Linked DNA regions of Homo sapiens: region 1 is linked to region 2. The links come from fine-mapping of genetic effects on gene expression. A gene starts in region 2. The other region holds a variant in brackets. All regions are shown on one strand. Distances are from middle to middle.

Region 1 (12,145 bases), 95 kb before region 2:
TCTCTTTCCACGGTCTCCCTCTCCCTCTCTTTCCACGGTCTTCCTCTGATGCCGAGCTGAAGCTGGACTGTACTGCTGCCATCTCGGCTCACTGCAACCTCCCTGCCTGATTCTCCTGCCTCAGCCTGCCGAGTGCCTGCGATTGCAGGCGCGCACTGCCACGCCTGACTGGTTTTCGTATTTTTTTGGTGGAGACAGGGTTTTGCTGTGTTGGCCGGGCTGGTCTCCAGCTCCTAACCGCGAGTGATCCGCCAGCCTCGGCCTCCCGAAGTGCTGGGATTGCAGACAGAGTCTCGTTCACTCAGTGCTCAATGGTGCCCAGGCTGGAGTGCAGTGGCCTGATCTCGGCTCGCTACAACCTCCACCTCCCAGCCGCCTGCCTTGGCCTCCCAAAGTGCCGAGATTGCAGCCTCTGCCCGGCTGCCACGCCATCTGGGAAGTGAGGAGCGTCTCTGCCTGGCCGCCCATCGTCTGGGATGTGAGGAGCCCCTCTGCCTGGCTGCCCAGTCTGGGAAGTGAGGAGCGCCTCTTCCCAGCCGCCATCCCATCTAGGAAGTGAGGAGCGTCTCTGCCCGGCTGCCCATCGTCTGAGATGTGGGGAGCGCCGCCGCCCTGTCTGGGACTTGAGGAGCGCCTCTGCCCGGCCGCCCTGTCTGGGATGTGAGGAGCGCCTCTGCCCGGCCGTGACCCTGTCTGGGAGGTGAGGAGCGTCTCTGCCCGGCCGCCCCGTCTGAGAAGTGAGGAGCCCCTCCCCCCAGCAGCCGCCCCGTCTGAGAAGTGAGGAGCCCCTCCGCCCGGCAGCCACCCGATCTGGGAAGTGAGGAGCGTCTCCGCCCGGCAGCCGCCCCGTCCGGGAGGGAGGTGGGGGGTCAGCCCCCGCCCGGCCAGCCGCCCCGTCCGGGAGGTGGGGGCGCCTCTGCCCGGCCACCCCTTCTGGGAAGTGAGGAGCCCCTCTGCCCGGCCACCACCCCGTCTGGAAGGTGTACCCAACAGCTCACTGAGAACGGGCCATGATGACAATGGCGGTTTTGTGGAATAGAAAAGGGGGAAAGGTGGGGAAAAGATTGAGAAATCGGATGGTTTCTGTGTCTGTGTAGAAAGAAGTAGACATGGGAGACTTTTCATTTTGTTCTGTACTAAGAAAAATTCTTCTGCCTTGGGATCCTGTTGATCTATGACCTTACCCCCAACCCTGTGCTCTCTGAAACATGTGCTGTGTCCACTCAGGGTTAAATGGATTAAGGGCGGTGCAAGATGTGCTTTGTTAAACAGATGGTCGAAGGCAGCATGCTCGTTAAGAGTCATCACCACTCCCTAATCTCAAGTACCCAGGGACACAAACACTGCGGAAGGCCACAGGGTCCTCTGCCTAGGAAAACCAGAGACCTTTGTTCACTTGTTTATCTGCTGACCTTCCCTCCACTATTGTCCTATGACCCTGCCAAATCCCCTCTGCGAGAAACACCCAAGAATGATCAATAAAAAAAAAAAAGAAAAGAAAAAAGAAATTTCCTATAAATGGAGTGATAAAAAAAAAAAAGTCAGAAAATCATGTCTTGGCCTCTGAAAGATATCAACAAATGATATTTTTCAGTTGACTATGATTGTTGATTTGGAGGTCAACTTCTTATAACATTGAGACAATATATCAAGGCTATGAGAATTCTATCTGATACTTCTGTAGTATGATTTGCTACTAGAATTATGAAAATTCATTCTTCCTAATAAATAGATTTTAGGGGAAAATACATGCTCCTATAGCTCAGGAAATTCCAAAGGATTAGAAGTTCTATGCCAGAAAATGGTACAGAATTTCTTATTATATCCCAACATCACAGCTTTAGCCAGCATCTTACTTAATAGGGAAATACTAAAAGCATTTTTCACTTGGCTCAGGAACAACACAAAGATGCTCACCATCTCTGCTACTATTCAACATTGTCTAGAGGTATTAGCCATTGCAATTCAACATGATAAATCAGTTCAAAGCATAAGATTGGTAAAGAGGAAGTAAAATTATCTCTATTTGCCAACAATGCTGGAAAAACTCAAATCAAAAATAAAATTAACTAAAAAATTCAGTAAAGTGACAGCATACAAAGCTAACATACAAAAATCAATAACTTTCATACAAACAAACAATAATCAGAGGGCATAATGATAAAATTCGTTTATATAGTATTGAAGAAGATTGAATACTTAGAAATAAAAGTATCAGGAAATGTGCAAAACTTATATGAGGAAATTTTAAAATACTCCTGAAAGTCACAAAGATAGACTTACATAAACGGGTAGAACTCAACATTATAAAGATGTTGGCTTTTCTTAAGTTACTTTATAAATTTAATGCAATCCCAATAAAAGTACCAATAAGCTTTTATATGGCATTATGTAATTGATAACTAATATTTACATAGAAAAAAATGCAAGAATACCCAGAAAAATACCAAAAAAAAAAGAATAACTATGGTGAAGACTAGCTCTGTCAGACATTAATACAAAATATATCCACTGAATTTCTGACTGCTTAAAACAAATAGGTCAGATGCAGTGGCTGACGCCTGTAATCCCAGCACTTTGGGAGGCTGAGGTGGGAGGATCACTTGAGGTCAAGAGGTTGCCTGAGACCAGCCCAGGCAACAAAGCCAGATCCTGTCTCTACAAAAAATTAAAAAGTTATTCAGGAATGGTGGCACATGTCAGTAGTCCTAGCTACTTGGGAGGCAGAGGCATGAGGATTGCTTGAGCCCAGAAGTTCAAAGTTGCAGTGAGTTAAAATGACGCTACTGCATTTCAGCCTGGCCAACAGAGTAAGACTTCATGTTAAAAAAATAAAATCCACTAGGCACAGTGGCACATACCTGTAGTCCCAGCACTTTGGGAGGCTGAGGTGGGCAGATCACTTGAGGCCAGGAGTTGGTGACCAGCCTGGGCAATACAGTGAAATACTTTCTCTACAAAAAGTACAAAAATCAGCTGAGCGTAGTGGTTTCTGCCTGTGGTCCCAGCTACTCAGGAGGCTGAAGTGGGAGGATCCCTTGAGCCTAGGAGGCAGAGGTTGCAGTGAGCCAAGATTACACCACTGCACTCTAGCCTGGGTGACAGAGGGAAACCCTGTCTCAAAAAAAAAAAAAAATCCACAGACAATAAAATAAGAGAATGATAGCTTGACTATATTTTTTAAATTGCATGGCAAAAATCACCATAAACAAACTAAAAAGAAAACAGAAAACCTCTTAGAACTAATTGAGTTCAGCAAAGTTGCAGATGAAGAGTAACATAAAAATCACTCACATTTTTATATACTAACAATGAACATATGGAAACCAAAATGTAAAACACAAAACAATGTACAATCATTCCAAAGAAAATAAAACGCTCAGGTATAAGCCTAACAAAATATGTGTAGGATATATATGCTGAAAATTGAAAATTATAAAGTGCTAATGAAAGAAAAGATTTAAATAAATGGAGAGGCATATTGTGTTCCTGTATTTGAAGATGTAACATAGCAATTTTCAATTCTCCCTAAATTGATCTGTAGGTTTTTTGTTTTGTTTTAGAGTCAGGGTCTCACTCTGTCACCCAGGCTGGAGTGCAGTGGTGCAATCTCAGCTCACTGCAACCTCGGCCTCCCAGGCTCAAGTGATCCTCCCACCTCAGCCTTCCAAGTAGCTGGGCCACAGGCATGCAGCACAATGCCTGGCTAATTTTTGTATTTTCAGTAGATACAGGATTTTGCCATGTTGTCCAGGCTGGACTCAAACTCCTGAGCTCAAGTGATCCACCCACTTTGGCCTCCCAAAGTGCTAGGATTACAGGTATGAGCCATGGCGCCTGGCCGAGCTTGGCAGTTTTTTATAAAGCTAAACATGCAACCACCATACAACCAACCAATTACACTCTTGGGCATTTATCCCAGAGAAATGAAAACATATTAACAAAAAACCCACACATGAATGCTCATAGCATCCTTGGTCATAATAGCTAAAAACTGGAAACAAATCAGATGTCCTTCAATGGGTGAATGGTTAACAAATTTTGGTACATCTGCACCATGGAATACTACTCAGCAATAAAAAAGGAACAAACTACTGATACACATGACAACCTGAATGAATCTCCAGGGGATTATGTTGAGTGAAAAAAAGGTAACTCTACAATATTACAAACTGTATGATTCCATTTATAGTCCATTCTCAAAATGACAAAAATCGTAGACGTGGAGAACAGATTAGTGATTGCCAGAGGTTAAGGAGTGGGTGTGAGTGAGAGGGAAGTGATCATGGAAATGATCAGTATCTTGACTGTATCAATACCAATATCCTAGTTATGATATCATACCATAGTCTTACAAGATGTTATTGTTGAGGGAAACAGGTTTAAGGGTAAAGAGATCTGTATTAGTACTTACAACTACATGTGAATAAAAAGACAACTGATGAAATGGGAGAAAATATTTACAACAGACCAAGGGCTAAAGAACTCTTAAAACTTAAGGAAAAAAAAACAATGATCATCTCAACTGATGCAGAAAAAGTATTTGATAAACTCCAACCCCCTTTCATGATAAAAAATTTTTACTAATTAGAAATAGAAGAGAGCTTCTTCAACATGATAAAAGGCACTTATTAAAAAAATCTCGGCCGGGCGCCATGGCTCACGCCTGTAATCCCAGCACTTTGGGAGGCTGAGTCAGGCGGATCATGAGGTCAGGAGATCGAGACCATCTTGGCTAACACGGTGAAACCCCGTCTCTACTAAAAAACACAAACAATTAGCCAGGCGTGGTGGCGGGCGCCTGTAGTTCCAGCTACTTGGGAGGCTGAGGCAGGAGAATGGCGTGAACCCGGGAGGCAGAGCTTGCAGTGAGCCGAGATGGAGCCACTGCACTCCAGACTGGGCAACAGAGCGAGACTCTGTCTCAAAAAAAAAAAAAAAAAAACTCATACTCGGTGGTGAAAGACTGAGAACTTTTTGCCTAAGATCAGGAATAAGACAAGGATGTCTTTTTTTTTTCTTTCTGTCGCCTGGGCAACAGAGCAACATCCTGTCTCAAAAAATAAAATTAAATTAAAAACTCACTGCAGCCTGGATCTCCCTGGGCTCAAATGATCCTCCTACCTCAGACTCTCAAGTAGCTGGAACTACAGGCACAGGCACACACCACCATGCCTGGCTGATTTTTTTTTTTTATTTTTAATAGAAATGAGGTCTTCTGTCCAGGCGCAATGGCTCATGCCTGTAATCCCAGCACTTTGGGAGGCCGAGGCGGGTGGATCACAAGGTCAGGAGATAGAGACCATCCTGGCTAATACGGTGAAACCTTGTCTCTACTAAAAATACCAAAAAAATAGCCGGGTGTGGTGCCCGTGAACCCGGGAGACAGAGCTTGCAGTGAGCCAAGATCACGCCACTGCACTCCAGCCTGGGTGACAGAGTGAGACTCCATCTCCAAAAAAAAAAAAAAAAAAAGACAAAAAAGAAATGAGGCCTCACCATGTTACCCAGGCTGGTCTAGAACTCCTGGGCTCAAGCAATCCTCCCACCTTGGCCTCCCAAAGTGCTGGGATTACAGGCATGAACCACCGTGCCCAGTGGATGTCCACTTTTTTGTTTTTGTTTTTGTTTGTTTGTTTTTGAGACGGAGTGTCGCTCTGTCGCCCAGGCTGCAGTGCAGTGGCGCTATCTCGGCTTACTGCAAGCCGCCTCCCGGATTCCCACCATTCTCCTGCCTCAGCCTCCCGAGTAGCTGGGACTACAGGAGCCCGCCACCACACCTGGATAATTTTTTGTATTTTTAGTAAAGACGGGGTTTCACCGTGTTAGCCACGATGGTCTCGATCTCCTGACCTCGTGATCCACCTGCCTCGGCCTCCCAAAGTGCTGGGATTACAGGG[G/A]TGAGCCACCGTGTCCGGCCTGGATGTCCACTTTTAACACTTTTACTCAACACTGTCCTGGAAGTTCTGGCCAGAGTAATTAGGTAAGGAAAATAAATAAAAGGCATATAGATCAGAAAGGAAGAAGTAAGAATATCTCTTAAAAGATGACGTGATCTTTTATGAAAAAGTCCTAAAGAATCCACAAAAAACTAGTAGAGTTAATAAATGAACTCGGCAAAGTTTTCGGATATAAGATCAATAGGCAAAAATGAATTGTATCGCTATAATATATGCTAGCAATGAACAATTCCAAAAGGAAATTACAAAAACAATTACATTTATAATAGCAGCAAAAAGAATAAAATACTTGGGAATAAATCTAATTGAGGAAATACAAGAGTTGTATACCAAAAATTAAAAAACATGCTAAAAGAAATAAAGAAGACATAAATAATGGAAAGACATTCATGTACATGGATTGAAAGACTTAGTATTGTTAAGATGGCAGTAATCCCCAAAGTAATCTATAAACGCAATGCAATCCCTATGACAGTCCCAATGGTCTTTTATGAAGAAATGGAAATGCTGATCCTAAAATCCACATGGAATTGCAAGGGGTCCTAAATAGCTAAAACAATCTTGAAAAAGAGCACTCCTCTACAGAAACAGGCAGATCTGCTAGGCAGAATATCAGTAAGGATGTAGTTGAATTCAACAGCACTGCCAGTTAACAGAATACAGTTGACATCTAGCCGGGCGCGGTGGCTCACGCCTGTAATCCCAGCACTTTGGGAGGTCGAGGTGGGTGGATCACGAGGTCAGGAGATCGAGACCATCCTGCCTAACATGGTGAAACCCCGTCTCTACTAAAAATACAAAACAAATTAGCCGGGCGTGGTGGCGGGCGCCTGTAGTCCCAGCTACTGGGGAAGCTGAAGCAGGAGAATGGCGTGAACCCGGGAGGCGGATCTTGCAGTGAGCTGAGATTGCGCCACTGCACTCCAGCCTGGGTGGCTGAGCAAGACTCTGTCTCAAAAAAAAAAAAAGAAAAAAAAATTTTAAGAAAGAATACAGTTGACATCTATAGAATAGTTCATCCCACAACAGCAGAATACACATTGTTTTCAAGACCAAATGGAATATTCACCAGATAGACCACATTCTGAGCCATAAAACACACTTTAACAAATTTAAAACAATAGAAACCATGCAATTTCTTCTCTCAGACCACAATGGAATTAAACTAGAAATCAATAACAGAAAGATGGCTGAAAAATCCCCGTACTTGGCCGGGCGCGGTGGCTCACGCCTGTAATCCCAGCACTTTGGGAGGCCGAGGCGGGCGGATCACGAGGTCAGGAGATCGAGACCATCCCGGCTAAAACGGTGAAACCCCGTCTCTACTAAAAATACAAAAAATTAGCCGGGCGTAGTGGCGGGCGCCTGTAGTCCCAGCTACTTGGGAGGCTGAGGCAGGAGAATGGCGTGAACCCGGGAGACGGAGCTTGCAGTGAGCCGAGATCCCGCCACTGCATTCCAGCCTGGGCGACAGAGCGAGACTCCGTCTCAAAAAAAAAAAAAAAAAAAAAAAAAAAAAAAAAAAAATCCCCGTACTTGTAGATTAAGCAACATACTTATAACTAACACATGACTCAAAGAAGAAAACTTAGAGAAATTAAAAAATATTTTGCACTAAAAGAAAATAAAAATATGCTTATCAAAATTTGTGAAATGCAGCAAAAGCAGTGTTTAGAGGATTTTTTTTTTTTTTTTTTTTTTTTTTAGAGATGGGATATCGCTATGTCACCCAGACTGGTCTCTACCAAAAATACAAAAAACTAGCCGGGCGTGGTGGCAGGCGCCTGTAGTCCCAGCTACTCGGGAGGCTGAGGCGGGAGAATGGCGTGAACCTGGGAGGCGGAGCTTGCAGTGAGCTGAGATTGCGCCACTGCACTCCAGCCTGGGCGACAGAGCAAGACTCTGTCTCAAAAAAAAACAAAAAGGCATTAGTTCTATTCCACCCTTATGACCTAATCATCTCCTAAAAACTAAAGAGCCCACCTGTTAATACTATTACATTGGTAATTAGGTTTAACATATGAATTTTGTTAACATTCAGACCATAATAATCAATAATTAATAATCTTCCAAAACAGAAAGCTGCAGGCCTGATGAGTTCACTGGTGAATTCTACCAAACATTTAAGAAAGAAATTATGCCAGTTCTGTGAAATCTCTTCCAGAAGATATAAGCAGAGAAAACACTTCCTAATTCATTCTATGAGGTCAGCATCTAATACTAAAACCAGATAAAGACATTACCAGAACAACTCTACAGATCCATATCTCTCATAACCATAGGTACAGGAATCCTCAACAAAATATTAGCAAATCAAATCCAATGATACATAAAGATAATTATATGCCATGACCAAATGGGGATTTATCCCAGGTATGCAATCAGTTAATGTAATCCATCACGTCTAAAAGAGAAATATCAAATGATAATTCAATACACGCAGAAAAAGCATTTGAAAAAATTCAGCACCCATTTGTGATTTAAAAAAACTCTCAGTAAACTAGGAATAAAGGGGAACTTCCTTAACTTGATTTTTAAAAGGTACAAAAACCGTATAGCTAATATTTTACTTAACAGTGAGAAACTAGAAGCTTTCCTGCTAAGATCAGAAAAAAGGAAAGAAAGTCCTCTCTCCCCACTCCTTTCAATATTACGCTGGAAGTCCTAGCTAATGCTAAGACAAGAAAAAGAAATAGAAGTATACAGATTGGGAAGGAAGAAAGGTGGTAAAGATGGCATGATTGTCTATGTAGAAAATCTGGAAAAATCAGCAACAACAAACCCTTGGGACTAATGAGCAGTTATAGCAACATTGCAGCATGCAAGATTAATATAAAATTATCAATTGCTTTCCTATATACCATCAATGAACAAGTGGAATCTGAAATTAAAAACACAGGCTGGATAGCTGCAAATAAAATAAAATACTTAGGAATTAACCAAAGAAATGAAAGATCTCTACAATGAAAACTATAAAACATTCATGCAAGAAACTGAAGTGAGGCTGGGAATGGTGGCTGAAGCCTGTAATCCCAGCACTTTGGGGGGCCAAGGTAGGTGGATCTCTTGAGTCCAGGAGTTCGAGACCAGCCTGGGCAACGTGGTGAAACTTCAACTCTACAAAAAACACAAAAAAGAAAAACTAGCTGGGCATGGTGGTTCGCACCTGCAGGCCCAACTACTCAGGAGGCTGAGGCAGGAGGATCACTTGAGCCTGAGAAATTAAGGCTTTGGCAAGCCATGATCACACCACTGCACTCTGGCCTGGGTGACAGAGTGAGACCCTATTTCAAAAAAGAAAAGAAAAGAAATTGAAGAGGACACAAAAAATGGAAAGATATTTCATGTTCATGGATAGGAAGAATCAACATTGTTAAAATGTCCAATAGATTTAATGCAATTCCTGTCAAAATACCAATGACATTCTTCACAGAAATAGAAAAAAATCCTAAAAATCCTAAAATATGTATGGAATCACAAAAGACCCAGAATAGCCAAAGCTATCCTAAGCAAAAAGGACAGAACTAGAGGAATCACATTATCTGACTTCAAATTATACTACAGAGCTATAGTAACCAAACGGCATGGCACTGGCATAAAAACAGATACATAAACCAGTGGAACAGAATCAAAAACCTAGAAATAAATTCATACATCTACAGTGAACTCGTTTTTGACAAAGTTTCCAAGAATATATATTGAGGAAAGGACAGTCTCTTCAATAAGTGGTGCTGGGAAAACTGGATATCCATATGCATAAGAATGAAACTAGACCCCTATCTCTTGCCAAAAAAATCAAATCAAAATGAATTAAAAACATTTAAGACTGAAAATTATGAAACTACCAAAAGAAAACACTGGGGAAACTCTCCAGGACATCAAAGTGGGCAAATACTTCTTGAGCAATACCCCACAGGTATAGGCAACCAAAGCAAAAATGTATAAATGGAATTACGTCAAGTTAAACAGCTACTGCACAACAAAAGAAACAATCAACAAAGTGAAGGGACAACCCATAGAATGGGAGAAAATATTTGCAAACTTCCCATCTGTATTAGTCAGTGTTCTTTCTCTCTCTATATATAAAGGGGAGTTTATTACATGATCACAAGGTCCCACAATAGGCTTTCTGCAAGCTGAGAAGCAAGGAGAGCCAGTCTGAGTCCCAGAACTGAAGAACTTGGAGTCCGATGTGCGAGGGCAAGAAGCATCCAGCACAGGAAAAAGATGAAGGCTGGGAGGCGAAGGCTGTCTCTCCTTTTCACGTTTTTCTGCCTGCTTTATATTCAATGGCAGCTGATTAGATTGTGCCCACCAGATTAAGGGTGGATCTGCTTTCCCCAGCCCACTGACTCAAATGTTAATCTCTTTTGGCAGCACCCTCAGAGACACACCCAGGATCAATATTTTGTATCCTTCAATCAAGCTGACACTCGATATTAACCATCACACCATCTGACAGAATACATAAGGAGTTCAAACCACTCTCTAGAAAAGAAATCTAATAATCTGATTAAAAGTGGGCCAGAGATCTGAATAGATATTTCTCAAAAAAAGACAAACAAATGGCAAACAGGCATATGAAAAGGTGCTCTACATAGTTGATCATCAGAGAAAAGCAAATCAAAACTACAATGAGATATTACCTTACCCCAGTTAAAATGGCTTTTATTCAAAAGACAGGTAATAACACATGCTGGCGAGGATGTGGAGAAAAGGCAACCCTTGTACACTGTTGGTGGGAAGGTAAATTAGTGCAACCACTGTGGAAAACATTGTGGAGGTCCCTCAAAAAACTAAAAACAGAGCTACCATATGATCCAGCAATCCCACTTCTAGATATATACCCGCAGAAAAGGAAATCAGTATTTCAAAGAGATGTCTGCACTTCCATGTTTATTACAGCAGTATTCACAATAGCTAAGACTCCGGAGCAACCTAAATGTCCATTAACAGATAAATGGATTAAGAAAATGTGGTACATATACACAATGGAGTACCATACAGCTATAGAAAAGAACGAGATCCTGTCATTTGCAATAAAATGGATGGAACTGGGGAACATTATGTTAAGTGAAATAAGCCAGGCACAGAAAGACAAACATTACCTGTTCTCACTTATCTGTGGGGGCTAAAAATGAAAACAATTGAACTCATGGAGATAGGAGAAGGATGGTTGCCAGAGACCAGGAAGGGTAGTTGGCGGTGGGGGCTGGTGATGGAAGGGGAGATGGTTGATGGGTACAAAAAAATAGTTAGAAAGAATAAATAAGACCTACTATTTGCTAGCACAACAAGGTAACTATAGCAAAAAATAATTTAATTGTACATTTAAAAACAATTAATAGAGTATAATTGGATTGTTTGAAACATAAAGGTTCAATGCTTGCAGTGATGAATACCCTATTTACCTGAATATGATTATTATGCATTGCATGCCTGTATCAAAACATCTCATGTAACCCATAAATATATACACCTACTATGTACCTAAAAAATAAAAAATATAAAATATAAAAAATGCAGGCTGGGCACAGTGGATCACACCTGTAATCCCAGCACTTTGGGAGGCCAAGGCAGGAGGATTGCTTGAGCCCAGGAGTTTGAGACCAGCCTGGGCAACATGATGAGACCCCATCTCTACCAAAAAAAATTAGCTGGGTATGGGGCATATGCCTGTAGTTCCAGCTACGGGGGAGGCTGAGATGGGAGAATTGCTTGAGCCCAGGAGGCTGAGGATTCAGTGAGCTATGATCACACCACTGCGCTCCAGCCTCAGTGACAGATTGAGATCCTGTCTCAAAACAAACACACACACACAATACGGTATCATTTACATCAGCTCCCTCCAGAATGAAATACTTAAGTACAAATCTAACAAAATATGTACAAGATTTATATATTTTTTAAAAACTATGAAACTCTGATGAAAGAAAACAAAGAAGTACTAAATAAATAATGTTCCACGTTCATGGTTAGGAAGACTCAATATTGTTAAGATATCGGTTCTTCCTAACTTGGTCTATAGATTCAATGCAATCCCAATCAATATTCCAGCAAGTTATTTCTTATATTGACAAACTGATTCTGAAGTTTATATGGAGACATTTAAAACAAACATCACCACCACCAAAGATACCCAGAGTAGCCATCACAATATTAAAGGAGAACAAACTCAGAGGACT
Region 2 (12,145 bases):
CCGGCCTATATGTCTGTCTTTATGCTAGAATCACACTGTTTTGATTACTGTAGCTTTGTAGTAAGTTTTGAAATCAGGAAGTATGAGTCCTCCACCTTTGTTTCTTTTTTTTAAGATTGTTTTGGTTATTTGGGTCCCTTGAGACTCCATATGGACTTAATTTAAGAGTGGACTTTTCTATTCCCTCAAAAGAAAATCAAGATTTTTGACATGGGAGAAACATGTAAAGTGACTAAGGTTAAGTTAAAACCCTGTAATTCTAGCTGGGCGCGGTGGCTCACACCCGTAATCCCTGCACTTTGGGAGGCTGAGGCACGTGGATCACGAGGTCAGGAGTGTAAAACCAGCCTGGCCAAGATGGTGAAACCCCGTCTCTACTAAAAATATAAAAATTAGCCAGGCATTGTGGCAGGTGCCTGTAATTCCAGCTACTCAGGAGGCTGAGGCAGAGAACTGCTTGAACCCACAAGGCAGAGGTTACAGTGAGCCTGGGCAACAGAGCAAGACTCCATCTCAAAAAAAAATAATAATAATAAATAAATAAAATTTAAAAACCCTATAATTCTAAATTTGAATATGAAACATTAGTATGAACTCCTGATGCATTTCGTATTTAAAAAAAATTACAGCCAGGTGCGGTAGCTCACGCCTGTAATTCCAGCACTTTGGGAGGCCAAGGCAGGCAGATGACAAGGTCAGGACAGGAGATCGAGACCATCCTGGCCAACATGGTGAAACCCCGTCTCTACTAAAATACAAAAAAATTAGCAGGGTGTGGTGGCGCGTGCCTGTAGTCCCAGCTACTCAGCAGGCTGAGGCAGGGGAATTGCTTGAACCTGGGAGGCAGAGGTTGCAGTGAGCCGAGATCGCGCCACTGCACTCCAGCCTGGCGAATGAGCAAGACTCCATCTCAAAAAAAAAAATTACCAGCTAGGCTGGGCACAATGGCTCATGCCTGTAATTCCAACACTTTGGGAAGCTGAGGCAAGAGGAGTGCTAGAGCCCAGGAGTACAAGATGAGCCTGGGCAACATAGTGAGACCTCTTCTCTACTAAAAAATAAAAAATTAGCTGAGCATGGTGGTGTGTGCCTGTAGTCCCAGCTACTGGGGGACCTGAGGAGGGAGAATCACTTGAGCCTAGGAGTTCGAGCCTGCAATGGGCTATGATCACACCACCACTGCAATCCAGCCTGGATGACAGAGCAAGACTCCCATTTTTTAAAAAATTACTGGCTGGGCATGGTGGCTCACGCCTGTAATTCCAACACTTTGGGAGGCCGAGGCGGGCAGGTCACTTGAGGTCAGGAGTTGGAGACCAGCCTGACCAACATGGAGAAACCCTGTCTTTACTAACAATACAAAATTAGCCGGGCGTGGTAGCGCATGCCTGTAATCCCAGCAACTCGGGAGGCTGAGGCAGGAGAATCACTTGAACCCGGGAGGCGGAGGTTGCAGTGAGCCAAGATCATGCCATTGCACTCCAGCCTGGGCAACAAGAGTGAAACTCTGTCTCAAAAAAAAAAAAAAAAAAAAAAAGTACTAACTATTCACCGAAAACATCTACAATGACTGACTCAGTAGCAATAAGTATCCGAAGTACTCAAGCTGTAGTCTTTAAATATCATTTCCTACTAAGAGAAATCAGGACTCCTTGGAAAGCTGTCTGATTCCAGATCTGGGGCAGAAAATTTACTAGATGAGTCTAGAAATATCTTTTCAGGCCAGGCGCTGTGGCTCATGCCTGTAATCCCAGCACTGTGGGAGGCCAAGGCAGGTGGATCACCTGAGGTCAGGAGTTCGAGACCAACCTGACCAATATGGAAACCCCATCTCTACTAAAAATACAAAAATTAGCTGGGCGTGGTGGCACACTCCCATAATCCCAGCTACTTGGGAGGCTGAGGCAGGAGAATTGCTTGCACCCGGGAGGCAGAGGTTGCAGTGAGCCGAGATTGCACCATTGCACTCCAGCCTGGGCAGTAAGAGCGAAACTCCATCTCAAAAAAAAAAAAGGAAAAAGAAAAGAAATATCTTTTCATACCAAACAGCAAAGAAGCTATCACAGGCTACTGTAATTGCTTTTTTAAAATTATTTTTTTAATAGACATAGGGATCTTGCCATGTTGACCAGGCTGGTCTTAAACTCCTGGCCTCAATCAGTCTTCCCCATTCAGCCTTCCAAAGTGCTGGGATTACAGGTATGAGCCACCAAGACTCATATATTGGAATTGTGTCAAAAGGACTGAAGAACAACCAACTTGAAGAAGTTCTCCCTAACCAAAGACGAATAATTTGAATTTCAATAACTATACTTGATTAAAACACAGCTAATATATTTAAATCCATGCATTCATTAAGATTTTAAAAAACTCAGCCGGGTTTGGTAGTTCATGCCTGTAATCCTAACACTTTGGGAGGCTGAGACAGAAGGATCGCCTGAGCTCAGAGGTTCGAGACCAGCCTTGGCAACATAGCAAGATCTTGTGTCTACTAAAAATTAAAAAAAAGAAATTAGCTGAGTGTGGTGGTGCACGCTGTTAGTCCTAGCTACTTGGGAGGCTAAGGTGGGAGGATTGCTTGAGCCCAGGAGTTTGAGGCTGCAGTGAGCAACGAGTCATGCCACAGCATTCCAGCATGGCGACAGAGTGAGACCCTGCCTCAAAAAATTGTTTTCTTTTTAATTAGCTGTGTGTGGTGGTGAGTGCTTATAGTCCCAGCTACCTGGGAGGCCGAGGTAAGAGGATCCCAACTGATAGGGGCGTTGGTGGGAGAAAAAGTAGGTTTACTGATTTATTCTGAAAGCCAGCAAGACTGAGAGGACGGTGTACTAGCGTTCTAAAGTACCATTTTAAGTCAGTACAATCTTAGGCTCTTTCTATGTTAAGGGCAGGGAAGAGAAGGAGGGTGTGGTCAAGAAGTACCCCATGGCAGACATCTGGGCAGCAGCGAGGGTCTGAGGAGGTTGGGAACTTCTTTGTCCTTGGTCCAGTCACAATGCTCCTATAAATCTTTAAGAAAACATAGTTGTTTACATACTTCTTTAACCCCAGACTAAGTTTTAAAAACTACATGATTGCTGTTTTTATATATTACTCAGTGCTCTAAAGCTTATGGCAGCAAAAAATTAGAAGTCCAAATGCCCATGGCTGGGCACGGTAGCTCACGCCTGTAATAGCACTTTAGGAGGCCGAGACGGGCAGATCACCTGAGGTCAGGAGTTAGAGACCACCCTGGCCAACATGGTGAAACCCTGTCTCTACTAAAAGTACAAAATTAGTCAGATGCAGTGGTTCATGCCTGTAATCCCAACATTTTCAGAGGCTGAGGCAGGTGGATCACCTAAGGTCAGGAGTTTGAGACCAGCCTGGCCAACATGGTGAAACCCCGTCTCTACTAAAAATACAAAAAGTTAGCCAGGCATGGTGGCAGGCACCTGTAATCCCAGCTACTCAGGTGGCTGAGGCAGGAGAATCACTTGAACCTGGGAGGCAGAGGTTGCTGTGAGCCGAGATTGTGCCATTGCACACAACAAGAGCGAAACTCTGTCTCAAAAGAAAAAAAAAATACAAAATTAGCCGGGCATGGTGATGCATACCTGTAATCCTAGCTACTCAGGAGGCTAAGGCAGGAGAATCACTTGAACCTGGGAGGCAGAGGTTGCAGTGAGCCGAGATGGTGCTATTGCACTCCAGCCTGGGCCACAAGAGAGGAACTCCATCTCAAAAAAATAAAAATAAAAATGCCTATCTTCAGGATGAATAAACAAACTGTGGTATATTTACACAACAAAATAGTATACAGCAGTGAAAAAGTGAATTAACTGTGAAACATGAATCATAGTAACAGGTTGAGTGAAAAAAGCAAGTAACAAAGGACAACAAATCATATGATGCCCTCTTCATAAAAGTTCAAAACTGGCTGGGTGCGGTGGCTCACACCTGTAATCTCAGCACTTTGGGAGGCAGAGGCTGGCGAATCACCTGAGGTCAGGAGTTCGAGACCAGCCTGGCCAACATGGTGAAACCCCGTCTCTACTAAAAAAATACAAAAATTAGCTGGGCGTGGTGGTTGGCCCCTTTAATCCCAGCTACTCAGGAGGCTGAGGCAGGAGAATCGCTTGAACCTAGGAGGCAGAGGTTGCAGTAAGCAGAATGCCACTGCATTCCAGCCTGCGCGACAGAGTGAGACTTTGTCTCAAAAAAAAAAAAAAAAAAGTTCAAAACTAAGGAAAACCAAAAGATATATTGTGTAGGCATGCAGATATAACTTTTTTTTTCTTTAAAATACAGAATTCTGGGCCAGGTGTGGTGGCTCATGCCTGTAATCCCACTTTGGGAGGCTGAGGTGGGAGGATCGCTTGAGCCCAGGAGTTTGAGACCAGCCTGGGCAACACAGTGAGACCCATCTCTATTTACAATAAATTAATTAATTAATTAATTTAAAAAATACAGAATTCTGGCCCAGCGTGGTGGCTCACGCCTGTAATCCCAGCACTTTGTGAGGCCAAGCGGGGAGGAAAGTTGAGCTCAGGAGTTCAAGACTAGCCTGGACAACAAGGTTAAACCACTTCTTTACAAAAAATACAAAAACTTAGCCGGGCATGGTGGTGTGCTCCCGTAGTCCCAGCTATGCAAGAGGCTGAAGTGGGAGGATTGCTTGAGCCCAGGAGGTAGAGGCTGCAGTGAGCAGAGATTGTGCCACTGCACTCCAGCCTGGGCGACAGAGACAGACCGTGTCTCAAAAAATAAATAAATAAATAAATACAATACAATACAATACAATACAATACAATACAATACAATACAATACAGAATTCTGGATGGTGGTGGCCCCTTGAGTTTTGCAATGGGTACATGGGTGTTTATCGTATTAATTTAAAAGTTATAAATATACATGAATTTTAAGAAGAGGATCCATGCAAGGTTCAATGATAATTGTATATCATTAACCAAAGATTTTAATTAATCCATTCTGTCACCTGAAGTCGGCCTCCCCCGCCCCCTGCCAAAAGTAAACACTTTTCTAATCAGGGCCAGCCACTGGAGAAACTGAAATGAGTGGGCGGGGTGCTAACTCTATTTTCACTTTTCTCTTCCTGTTTCTTCAGAGCCTGGGAAACAAGTCAGAATTTCCAATCTTTTCCAATTCCCACATGATTTCCTAATTTAAGACGAATTCAGAGAAAATAAAAAAGTCTTTCTCCATCTGGAGAAGACTCCGCCCCCTGCAGTGGAGCATCCTCCTTTGGGGATGAGGCCTGGGGTGGGGGTGCGTCAGCCCCAGCCTCCACACGGACGCGCCTTGGGCTTGGTCTTGGGGGAGCTACCTGCACTGTGGGGTCACATGACAGAATTAGTGGTCAGCCCTAGCTGGAGGTCCAGGGCAAACACAGGCGGGGGCAGGGGGGTGGGGGGTCGTGAGCCTGCTGATTCAAGTGTCCCTGTGGGTCCCGCACCTTCTGAGACACAAGCGCCAGGCTTCAGAGACGAGGCTCCGGGATTTACCCCTGGGGGCCTCCTGCTCCCACAGCCGATGAGAGCCGGCAGTTTGGCTGTATCGTAAGCTGGCGCTTTAGCTGGAGAGGGACGAGCCCTCGGCCAGCTCGCCAGCGGGAGGGCCTCAGTCGTCCCATCCGGGCTGTAGGCTCCGCAAAGCTCTTGATGCACTGTCAGGCTGGGAGGTCCGGCCGCTCCCATTCCCCCACAGCCGCATCTAGATTGGGGTGGGTAGGACATTTTAACGTGCTTCTGAGACAGCCACCACCGAAAGGCACCTTTAGCGGTTAGGAAACCCGCGCGGAGTTCAACCACCCGGCCTCTGCGGAGCAGAAGGCCCGGTCGGGCTTTTCCCTGCGCGGGGCGGGCGGCCGCAGCCCAGTAGCCCTGGCTTTGCTCCAGACCCGGCCCAGAGTGACATCACCAAACTCCGCCGATCGGCGGGAGGGGGCCCTGAAATCCCCTAAAAACAAAGTGAGTAATCGGCGGACCCACCCTCCAGGCGGGGCCGGGACCCGGGAGCTAGCCGAGCCACCGGGCACGCCAGCCTCTTCGTCCTCGGCGAGGCGCGCACTTGGCCCCGACCCCCGGCAGCGGCTGTGCGTGCAGCCTCTTCGTCCTCCGCGCGGCGTGCACTTGCTCCCGGCCCCTGCGCCGGGCGGCGGCGGGGCAGCGCGCAGGCGCGGCCGGATTCCGGGCAGTGACGCGACGGCGGGCCGCGCGGCGCATTTCCGCCTCTGGCGAATGGCTCGTCTGTAGTGCACGCCGCGGGCCCAGCTGCGACCCCGGCCCCGCCCCCGGGACCCCGGCCATGGACGGTGAGGTCGCCCTCTGACCCCGCGGGGTGGCATCGCCGGGGCCGCCGCGGCTGTGGCGGGAGCCCCCGCGCCGCTTTCCGCCCCTTCCTGCGCCGACGGGCGCTGCGCAGGGAGCGGTCGGCCTGCCGGATGGTGGCGCGGGGCGGGGCAGGCGGGGAGGGGTCTGACTCAGTTTCCCCTCTGGGTGGAGGGGGTGGCCCTTGACTCAGCATCCTCCCTGGGTGGGGGAGCAGAGGGAACCTTGACTCAGTTTCCCTCCACACCGTCCATGGGGGCAGCTCTGGCTTCGTTTCCCTATTAGGGGAGAACGCATCTGATTCAGTTTCCTCTCTGGAGGGAGGTGGGGCGTGCCCTCCCTCAATTTTCCTTAAGAAAGTACAACAGGCCCTGATTCAGCTTCCCTCTGGAGAAGAAGGATTCCTTACCCCGTTTTCCCTCAAGAAGCAGGTGTTTCTGGTTCCTTTCCTCCACCCCTTAGTTTCACCGCAGGTTCTAGGGAGCAGGTCCTGACTCAGTTCCCCTGGGAGGGAGCCTGGCTTCTCCTCTCCGTGGAGAGCAGATTCCTCCTTGTGAGAATGGGCATTGGGTGTGTGCTGACCCTGATCTCCCTCCCCTTTCAGAACTGTTCCCCCTCATCTTCCCGGCAGGTAAGTGGCCCCCGCGGCGGTCGGGGAGGTGCTCCCTGGGGTAGGGCAGTGGGGGCAGCCGCCTAATGGGGCTGCGGTGTCCCCTGGCAGAGCCAGCCCAGGCCTCTGGCCCCTATGTGGAGATCATTGAGCAGCCCAAGCAGCGGGGCATGCGCTTCCGCTACAAGTGCGAGGGGCGCTCCGCGGGCAGCATCCCAGGCGAGAGGAGCACAGATACCACCAAGACCCACCCCACCATCAAGGTCAGCACTGCGCCAGGGTGTGCGGGGAAGGGACTGTGGAACCCCAGCCCTCTGTGTTTGGGAGTCAGGTTTGGATGTCTGGGCCTCTGTACTTTGGACAGATCAATGGCTACACAGGACCAGGGACAGTGCGCATCTCCCTGGTCACCAAGGACCCTCCTCACCGGCCTCACCCCCACGAGCTTGTAGGAAAGGACTGCCGGGATGGCTTCTATGAGGCTGAGCTCTGCCCGGACCGCTGCATCCACAGGTGAGGTCCCTGCAGGCTAGGAGGCCCAGCATGAGGGGACAGGAGGCGGGCTATGAAGTAGCCGCTACAGTGTTACTCCTTTCTGGACCCAGGGCAGAATTCCTCACTCCTTGCCCTGACTCAGCTCTGCAAGTAAACTGCCTTTGTCTTGAAATTATCTATTTGTACGTTTACTCTAGCAGATGAGTTCCAGGGGATACGGATGGGTCCCTAATCACTTCTGAATTCCTGACCCCTGTAGCTGGAAGGACAAGTCCCTCAGAGTCACGTCTCTTGTTTGAGGAAGAAAACCATTGAACCAGCACTCTCCCCTGGAGTTGACATTGCAGTTGACAGAGACAGGCTGTAAAAAAATATACAGGCCGGGCATAGTGGCTCATGCTTATAATCCTAGCACTTCGGGAGGCCAAGGCAGGAAGATCTCTTGAGCCTAGGAATTCAAGACTAGCCAAGGCAACATAGTGAGACCCCATGTCTACAAAAAATAAGAAATTAGCTGGGTATGGTGGCATGCGCCTATAGTCCCAGGGAGGCTGAGGTGGGAGGATCGCCTGAGCCCAGGAGGTCACTGCTGCGGCAAGCTATGATTGCACCACTGCACTTGGGTGGCAGGGCGATACCTTGTCTTTTTTTTTTTTTTTTTTTTTTTAAGAAAGAGTCTTGCTCTGTCCCCAGACTGGAGTGCAGTGGCGCGATCTCAGCTCACTGCAACCTCCACCTTCCGGGTTCATGCCATTCTCCTGCCTCAGCTTCCCGAATAGCTGGGACTACAGGTGCCTGCCACCACGCCTGGCTAATTTTTTGTATTTTTTAGTAGAGACAGGGTTTCACCGTGTTAGCCAGGATGGTCTCAATCTCCTGACCTTGTGATCTGCCTGTCTTGGCCTCCCAAAGTGCTGGGATTACAGGCTTGAGCCACCGCACCCGGCCCGACACTGTGTCTCTTAAAAATAAATAAATACACAGATAAATAAACAAGGTGCTGTCAGAGTAACAGTTTCAGTCCTGAAAATAAAACGAGGTCATAGGATAGAAGGATAACCTGGGGTGGGGGAGTTAGGGGAGCTGGTGTGTGATGACTTTAGATTGGGAGGTCAGGGAAGGCCTCCCTCAGCTAAGACTTGAATGGTGAGAAGGAGGAGAGAAGTAGGAAAAGAACATTCCAAGCCGACCAAACAAGTGCAAAGGCCTTGAGGTGGGAATGAGTGTCCTGTGTTTAGAGAGTGGAAAAGGAGCCCCGGTGGCTGTAAGCAGGGAGCCCACAGGGAGGCTGGCAGGGGCAGGGGCACGGAGGTGCTTGTCAGCTGAGTGAAGGGACAGGGTTCGTTGCAGCACAGTAGGAAGCCACTGGAGAGGGTTAGGCATGGAGCGATGATCTAGGGGTGGGCAGAGTAGGAAGGAGCAGGCTGGGCAAGGCAGGAAGGTCTGGGCTCTGTGAGAGACAGTGGGACAGACGACTGGGGGCGCTCAGTTTCCAGAACCTGGGAATCCAGTGTGTGAAGAAGCGGGACCTGGAGCAGGCTATCAGTCAGCGCATCCAGACCAACAACAACCCCTTCCAAGGTGAGGGCAAACCTGCCTGCCACACCCGCACCCTCTGTCACCCTCCCCAGCCCGCCTTTCCTGCATCTCCCTCACTGGCCAAGACACAGTAAAGCTGGAATCTTGGTGCCCATTCAGTACTCTCCCACTTTACCACTGGGAAACTGAGTCCCAGGAGGGGACATGACATTCAGGCCACAGTGGAGTCAGTGCTGGGTTCTGCCTCCTCTAGGACTTGTGTTTCACACACGCACCAGCGGCCCTCCCAGCGCAGAGCTCCCTGCCCCCACTGATAGCACCTATATCCCCACTTCCCCTGCTCTCCTGATCGCCTGTTTTCTTGGCAGTTCCTATAGAAGAGCAGCGTGGGGACTACGACCTGAATGCTGTGCGGCTCTGCTTCCAGGTGACAGTGCGGGACCCATCAGGCAGGCCCCTCCGCCTGCCGCCTGTCCTTTCTCATCCCATCTTTGACAATCGTGAGTAGCGAGGGAGACGCAGGAAGGGGAGAGGGTGGGCCTGAATAGGAGGAAGGGGGTTGGGGTGAGTGTGGCCTGCAAGAGGCGCTCTGGCTTCATTCAATCATCTTGCGTATTTGTCTACTCTTCTCTGCCCAGCTCTTTGTTGGCTGGGGAGAGAGGGCAAAGAAGACCCAGAGCTGTCCTTGAGGTGTAGCTCTGGCCTGGCAGGAAGTCTAGCAGAGAGTCTGATGGGAGATGGGCATTTTCAGTATTGTGTGATGAGAAGGTGGTGTGCCCACAACTGCGATAATGACTCTAGGAAATGAACTCCCAGGAACAAGATAGTGTTCGAGAATGATGATTCAGTGATGGAAGCCCACAGATGAATTGGGCTGACTGATCAGCTGCAGTCTTTAGTTAAGTAACCAGCAGGATGAATGGAAATAAAACGAATCTGGAGCCCCAAGGATGGGAAACCAGGATAAACTGGGGGTCAGGAGGGAAGGGCTCATTGCCAAGGTGGGTATGGACTGGCCTTAAAGATTGCTTTGGTCAGGTGGAGAAAGAGTGTGATCAGATTGGCACCCACTGGACTATAAGCTCCGGGAGAGCAGAGAGGTTTGGGTTTTGTGTGTGGTCGTATTCTTGCTTAGATCAGTGTTGAGTGCACAGTAGGCAAATACTTGTTGAATCGGTTGGGGTGAGGAGCTAATAAGAAGGTCTGACTTTGGCTACAAAGGTGTAGGTGGCAAGCTCTGGGCAACCTTGACTCTGGGCTGGGCAGGGAAGTTGCATCTCCTGCAGGCCACCCTGGGGACCTCTCGTGGCTCAGGTCATCCTCCCTTGTTTTCACTGCCTCAGGTGCCCCCAACACTGCCGAGCTCAAGATCTGCCGAGTGAACCGAAACTCTGGCAGCTGCCTCGGTGGGGATGAGATCTTCCTACTGTGTGACAAGGTGCAGAAAGGTATACATCAGGAGGCAGGGGTGGGCTCTTGGGAGCAAGGGGTGAAGCTGAGCAGAGAAGTGGAGTGTCAGGTAACTGGCTTTGGATACTTCCTCCTGTGCCTCGGGGGCCTCAGGTGGGCCGAAGGGTGATGTATCAGAAGACAAGCATCAGAAGTTGAGGGGGAGACCATGGAGGGTTAGACACACTGACCCACACTGCCACCGCATCTCCTGCAGAGGACATTGAGGTGTATTTCACGGGACCAGGCTGGGAGGCCCGAGGCTCCTTTTCGCAAGCTGATGTGCACCGACAAGTGGCCATTGTGTTCCGGACCCCTCCCTACGCAGACCCCAGCCTGCAGGCTCCTGTGCGTGTCTCCATGCAGCTGCGGCGGCCTTCCGACCGGGAGCTCAGTGAGCCCATGGAATTCCAGTACCTGCCAGATACAGGTACACAGCTGGGGTGGCAGCATCAGGGCAGCTGGGCTCTGTGCCGTGAGAGAGAGGCCAAGACTGCATGTCTGGGGCTGTGGTTGAGGGCCAGAAGCTGGAGTCAGAGCTTGGGATCCAAGAAACTGGAATCCATTTCTTGCCTCATTTAATAATAATGATACCTCAGACATTGAGCTAGTACTACACATCTGCCCCTATTCCAGGCACTTCACTGGATTACCTGATTTTAATCTCATGACCCTTTTGAAGTAGGAGATAGTGTCCAACTTGCCTGGGTTCACGTGGCTAGTAAGTAGCAGAGTCTAGCAGAGTCAGCGTTGGAACCCAGGCCATCTGGCTTCAGGATCCTTTTGCCACACTGGTTGTCTTGTCACTACCATACAGCCCAGCCACATTTTGGTCGAGGTTTGAGTGTCCACTTGGTACCAGGGCCTGTGCCAGGTATTGTGAATACAAAAAATGAGTAAGACATGCTCCCTGCCCTTCAGAGTCTCAGTCACTTGAGGAAGACAAATGTGCAAAACAGATCCTTAAGTCACGGAATGACATGTGAAATGGAGGTGTGCGCAGAGAAGCACGGGGGCACAGTGGCCTCCGGGGAGCTGGAGACAGCTGCATGGAGAAGGTGGCATTGAAGCTGGAGAAAGACACAGAAGTGTGTTCTCCAGGCAGGTGGCCCAGCACCTGGAAGGGAAGGGGTGTTGGCAACTGCACGGCCTATTCAGGGCCACCTTCGTGGTTTGAGCTGATGTTGGGCAGTGAGCAGGCTCAGAGATTGGAGGGCCTGGTTAAGCTGAAGGCCTCTAAGCAGAGAGGTGACAGGAGCAGATTTGGAAGTTGACTCAGGAGGCCACGTGTAGAAGATCAGAGACAGACAGACTCAAAGCAGGGAGGCCATTCTGGAAATGTTGCTGTAGTCCAGGAAGAGAAGATGCGGCACAAACCTTACAGAAGGAATAGCAGAGCAAGATCACATCTCCACCACTGTCCTCAGTTACCCTTCAGCCCTGCAGCCGTTTTGCGTCTTACAGACCAAGCTCAGTCTCACCTCAGGACCTGTGTCTAGCTGTTGCCTCTGCTTGGAATGCCCAAGGTTTTAATGCAAGTGGCTCATGCCAGTCCTTCCCTGACCTCTAAATTAGCCCTTCCCTCTACATTTAGACTGTCCTGACCTCACTTCCAGTATTGTTACATCACCATATCGTCCCTGGACCACCGTCACTTGAGATTTTCTGGTTTGGTTTTGTTTGTTTGTTTGAGACAGAGTCTCACTCTTGTCGCCCAGGCTG

Which allele goes with the higher level. Positions count from the first base shown, and alleles are read on the strand shown. Sizes are in standard deviations (SD) of each study's normalised expression.
As copies of G replace A in region 1, the expression in liver of the gene that starts at base 6,224 in region 2 goes up (large effect, 0.76 SD a copy in GTEx).

What was found. PIP is the estimated chance that this variant, and not a neighbour inherited with it, causes the effect.
Region 1: its variant is the best candidate, but not a certain one, in a credible set for the expression of RELA in liver (GTEx, PIP 0.53).

The regions. Positions count from the first base shown.
Region 1 is chr11:65,751,547-65,763,691 of GRCh38, reverse strand. No RefSeq gene overlaps it. Among named protein-coding and RNA genes, the nearest start is that of AP5B1, 23 kb to the left of the region's middle. The variant G/A (reference allele first, on the strand shown) is at 5,901.
Region 2 is chr11:65,656,995-65,669,139 of GRCh38, reverse strand. It overlaps RELA (RELA proto-oncogene, NF-kB subunit), which reads left to right and starts at 6,224. Exons shown (of 11, transcript NM_021975.4): 1 at 6,224-6,314; 2 at 6,935-6,961; 3 at 7,052-7,203; 4 at 7,305-7,453; 5 at 8,925-9,016; 6 at 9,343-9,474; 7 at 10,318-10,422; 8 at 10,641-10,853. The coding sequence starts at 6,308. It overlaps RELA-DT (RELA divergent transcript), which reads right to left and starts at 6,134. Exons shown (of 4, transcript NR_183625.1): 1 at 5,992-6,134; 2 at 3,597-3,694; 3 at 2,923-3,009. RefSeq lists an enhancer at 5,718-5,917 and silencers at 6,008-6,417, 6,478-6,537.